2 separate regions of the Homo sapiens genome follow, and region 2 is linked to region 1. The links come from fine-mapping of genetic effects on gene expression. Tissue or cell type: tibial nerve. Region 1 holds a variant in brackets; the other region holds the start of a gene. All regions are shown on one strand. Distances are between the middles of the regions.

Region 1 (2,762 bases):
CCCTCTGCCCTCTGCAAACATTAGAAAGTGCAACAGAGAAGATTTTCTTGTGTTTGTTCCCAAGCCATAATCTGTACTCCATGGGCAAACTGGGTCAGGCTTCCAAGTCCTGGCATCTAGGAATCCTGAGGCTCACTGACCTGGGAGAATGATGCTAGGGACAGAATAAGACTTTTAGAGCCCAGAGCCATCCCATTGGCCACTCCCCTACTTCCATAACTGCAGGTAACTTTAGATTATAAGAAATACCTTATACAACCTTTCAGGGAGTAAAAAAGTAACAAAAGCTTAGGGTAATGAGCAGTGTACTTTGGAAAGGAAAATCCCACCATCTTTGTTTTTGAGACTCTGGTAGGTTTTATGAATTAAGTGTTTGCACAGATATATATGACTACTTTCTTCAATGCAGCTGGCCAAGTTATTTTCTTCCTGCCCCTCCATTAAGCTCTGTCCCTGAGCCCTGCCCAGCACCAGTAGTAACTCAGGTTCCATATAAGAGCTGGACTTTGGCAAAGCCCTGGTAGGGACTTTTGTGTGACAGTAGGAAGGTGCAGAGCAAACTGGTTTCCTCAAATTTTATAGATTCATGTCCAGACAGTCAAGGTCAGCCCTGGAATCCAAGAAACAACACCTTCAGGGGCCTTTTCCAAAGCTGTTCTTACCAGGCCACATTGCCTGCCCCAGGCTCCATGGGGTGGTGTCAGAAGTGGGCTTAAAATGCAAGGCTATTCTGTTCAAACCTAAATGTAGAGTTCTATAAATTGTCATTTTGGGTACCCTTAAGAGCTAAGATAGATGAGATTTAGATTTGTAGCCTCCTGGTGAATTAAAAATAGACATGAAATATAGACAGGACCAAACAATCTTGCTGGGGGAGAGATGCCTTCCTGCCTTTGGGAGAAATGTCACAGGATCTGATCAGACCATGAACAAACACTCCAAGCCACAGTCATTGCTCCAAAAGTAGTGGATCTATGAGGTCAAAAGAAGGGCATAGCCAACACGACGCTTGACCCCAAGCCACCTCCCCTCCTACTCCAAGTTCACTCTTTCTCTGCTTTTCTTTCATGCAGAGGAAGAAGAAACAAAACTAGGGTGAGGGACCAAGGAGACGTCAGCATGGAAACCCTTGGATAGCTGCCCACAGAGCTTTGCATTCATTCCTCGTATAACACAAAAGAGTTTCTGGATGAAAAAGAGTTGAAGGTCAGAGTGAATGAACATGTGAGGTACTTAAAGATAGGCACTAAGGTTTTCACGCTGTGTTCTGGCAAACTTAGGATTTATTGAAGGTCATGGACTCTTTTGTAAGAGGAATTAGGCTTCAGGTGGGGTTTTTATGAAATTACTGGATTTTAGTGTACTTTTGAGGGATACTTCTCTTCTTCCACCCCCAGATTATACCCTCATCCACACTCTACCTCTGGGCATTGTTGTCCCAGTGCAGTCATGGCCCTTGACATTAGCAAAGGTGAGAAATCTTCTGCT[CTTTAG/C]TTTAGGTCTTGTTACTTAGAGTCAAATGTTACCTATTTATTATAATATATTAAAATCTTCTGCCCTTAATTTTAGGTCTTGTTACTTGTAGTCAAAAGTTATCTATTATACTTGTTTTCCTGTAATAAGGAAAAGTATGAAAAGGGAAAAGGAAATATCATTACAACCTCTTTTAGTTTACTCCCAATTCGATCACCTTTGCAGTTACTTCTTATCTTAAAATCACTATGTTAGGGCTGGACAGATTCCTTCCAGTCCAGCTTGTGTATTTTACAGAAAAGCAAACTGAGGCCAGATGAGGTTAGATGACTCGTTTAGGCTCACTCACCTCAACTCTTTTTCTTATTAACATAAACTCTTGGCTTAAAACTGGCATATGTTTTTCTCCCCCTCCTTTTCCCCCCTTTACTCTTTGTCTTATGATTTATCTTCTTTTTCCTATTTGATTGGGATCTGCAAATGTATAAACCCTAATTTCAACAGGTTTGAAACCCCTGCCCAGTATTCTCAAGGATATTAGGCAATAACTCATTATTTTTTCTTTTTTTCTGGGACAGGGCAAAATGTTGACATTTATTTTGCTAATATACCCAGGATTTTTCTTCTATATTTATTTTTTAGAATAAAAGAAGTAAATAAAATGGAAGTTACTCATATTCTCCGAGAATGAAGAAAGGGAAAAGGTGATGTGGGGGACCCAAGACCTATTTGAAGAAGGGTAGCTGTAAGCGTGACTAGAAAACAGTAAGGGGCAGACCAAACAGCCTCTTTCCTTAAGAATGAGCCCTTGGTGTTGATTATGTAACACTGGCGACTGCAATCCCCGAGGAAGCTGCCCGCCTGCCACAGTGTGGTTCAGTGGTTAAAAACAGACTTGAGACCAGTCATATTGCCTCGTGTCCAAGCCTAGGTTTTGCTACCATTTACTAGCTATATATATACGTGGACAAATTCCTCAACTACTCTATACCCAAGTTCGTTCCCTCATCCATAAAACGGGGGTAATAAGAGCACCCATCTCATAGGGTCATTGTGAGGCATACATGGGTTTGTCTCTGTAATGCGCTGGGAAGAGTGCCTGGAACATTCTAAGGGCGCAATCTGTGCTTATCATTATCATTACCTGTTATCAACCCTGTTTCCCAGCTCATCTTTGAATCTGAAAATATGGGCTAGAGATGGAAGAGGAGGGGAATTATTTTATTATACTTGACTAGGTGCTCAGGAACACTAGAGTTACAGCTTGATGAGAGCGCGAGGAATCCTTT
Region 2 (2,631 bases), 48 kb before region 1:
CTGCCTCCCAGGTTCAAGCGATTCTCCTGCCTCAGCCTCCCGAGTAGCTGAGACTACAGGTGCGTGCCACCACGCCTGTCTAATTTTTGTAGTTTTAGTGGAGACGGGGTTTCACCATGTTGGCCAGGCTAGTCTTGAACTCCTGACCTTGTGATCCGCCCACCTCGGCCTCCCAAAGTGTTGGGATTACAGGCGTGAGCCAACAGAGCTTTTAAAAACAAATACACGTGAGAGGCCGGGTGCATGGTGGCTCACGCCTGTAATTCCAGCACTTTGGGAAGCTGAAGCAGCAGGATCCCTTGAAGCCAGGAGTTCAAGACCAGTTTGGACAACATAATGAGATCCCATCTCTATGAAAAAAATTTTAAAAAATTAGCCAGATGTGGTGGTGATTGCCTGTAGTCCCAGCCACTTGGAGACTGAGGAGAGAGAAGCTGTTGAGTCCAGGAGTCTGAGGCTGCAGTGAGCTAGGATGGTGACAATGCACTCCAGCCTGGGCAACACAGTGAGCCCCTGTTTGGAAAATAATAATAATAATTAATAACATATGTGAAAGAGAGTTCACAATTAGTCCAATATCTTTAGAAAGATTCAAAAACACCTAAATGCGAAAAATGCCTTTATTCATTTGTCAGCTGGATTACAGAAAGTAGGAAGAAAAGAGCCTGTGCCTCTGTAGGAAAGTAACAACGACTTAACTTCTGGAAATGACTTCGCAGCTTAGAGCCCAGCAGTGCCTATTTTGGATTAAACTGTGTATTAATTAAGCTCAAACGATTTCAACATTCATCACCTTGCATTGCACTTCACAGAAAGCAAAACCAAAACAATCCTGGAGTTTTGAGTGAGGAAAACAGACGCCCCGCACTCGCACACGCGCGCACTCGCAGCCTGTCTGAAGTGCAGAGGTTCAGGCGGCCAAGGGACCCGCGCCGGTTTCCGCGGGCGACCTGCAAATCCTGCCCGGGGCCCGGCAGGCGCTGCGTCCCGGCGCGTTGGCAGTTGGCGACCCCCCTCGAATCCCCCCTCTGCTGCGGGCTCCCCGTGGCCTTTGGAGGCTCGGTGAGTCGGCTCCAAATGTTTTCCATATTTGTTCAGCCTCCATAATTCGAATACCAGGGCAGGCCGAGCCAGCCGTGCGCCGCGCTCCAGGGCCCAGGGCGCCGCACACGCACCCACCCACCCACCCAGCCTCGCAGCGCCATGGGCAAGAACAAGCAGCCACGCGGCCAGCAGAGGCAGGGGGGCCCGCCGGCCGCGGACGCCGCTGGGCCCGACGACATGGAGCCGAAGAAGGGCACGGGGGCCCCCAAGGAGTGCGGGGAGGAGGAGCCCCGGACCTGCTGCGGCTGCCGGTTCCCGCTGCTGCTCGCCCTGCTGCAGCTGGCCCTGGGCATCGCCGTGACCGTGGTGGGCTTCCTCATGGCGAGCATCAGCTCCTCCCTGCTAGTCAGGGACACTCCATTTTGGGCTGGGATCATTGTAAGCATCAAGTCTGTTTTGCCTAAGCGCGTTTGCCAAACAGGAATGCGAAGTCGCATGGTCGAGTTGAGACTAACCCAGCTGCATGTGCCCTTCCCCGGGTTCACTCTTCTAACTCGCGCTCTGCTCGGTGACTGATGCGTGGGGCACTGGGTTTTCCCGGGCGGGGCAGGGCTGGACGCGATAGGGCTCCTGCCCCTCTCCTGCTCGCGGCTCCCAGCGCCTCCACGGGGCCTGACTCTGACGCTCTGGAGCTGGGGAGTTCATTTCAAAAGCTGCTTATTTTGGTCAGACTGAACAGCCTCAATAACAACAGCGGATTCATTCGGGCTTTTTCCTTATCCTGTTACCCAGACCCCACCCCTGTCCTTAAACAAGTGGCAAAAAGTGAATTAAGTTCATCTAGTGAAAGCAGGAGAGGAGAAAGCCTGTACTTGGAGTTGCCACATTGAGTAGCATTCATTTTATGTTTTAAACTGAGGCTCCATTAGTAAGTTTCCTGAAATGATGGGCTAAGGCAGGAAATGCGAATACAGCAAGCACAGCCTTAATCCACTGGAGTCTAAAGTGGGATAAACCCAGGGCGCTGGCCATGGCAGAAGTATATTTGGGACTCCACCGATGGATGTACTGTTCTAAGTTGAACAGTACTCAGCTGTTGTGAGTGTTGAAACATGTAGCATACTTGGCTTGATTAAATGAATTCTTTAATGTAAAACGGGTGCCACTTACTGAATACCTACTGTGTGCTCGCCCTGCTAGAGGCCTGACACATATTATTTCTAATCCCCACATCGTCCTGATGGGATCGTTTTAATCATTCTCACTTCTCAAATGAGGGAACCCAGGCCAGACTCACCCAGGGTCATGAGTGGGTAAAGCATTCAGCCATGCTGATTCCTCTTTATGCTAGACTATATCTGCGTTTTCCTCATTGAACCACACTGCCACCACATTTGGTTTGTAACTTTAATATTATGTTATATTACAGTGTCTTGTAGCATATTAAACTCTTTCACATGCATTATTTCATTTGAGCCACGAAACAACACTTTGAAGTGGGAACTGTTATTCCTTTTGGATGTGAGGAAATAGGCTAAGAGAAGTTAGATGACATTCTCAAGCCCAGAGATTGAATGTGGTCGAATC

What was found. PIP is the estimated chance that this variant, and not a neighbour inherited with it, causes the effect.
Region 2: SSPN starts here. The variant in region 1 is fine-mapped to the expression of SSPN in tibial nerve (GTEx, PIP 0.98).

What each region holds. Positions count from the first base shown.
Region 1 is chr12:26,242,371-26,245,132 of GRCh38, forward strand. The region is part of intron 1 of SSPN-AS1 (SSPN antisense RNA 1); the gene reads right to left. Among named protein-coding and RNA genes, the nearest start is that of SSPN-AS1, 28 kb to the right of the region's middle. The variant CTTTAG/C (reference allele first, on the strand shown) is at 1,489.
Region 2 is chr12:26,194,470-26,197,100 of GRCh38, forward strand. It overlaps SSPN (sarcospan), which reads left to right and starts at 1,104. Exons shown (of 3, transcript NM_005086.5): 1 at 1,104-1,482. The coding sequence starts at 1,204.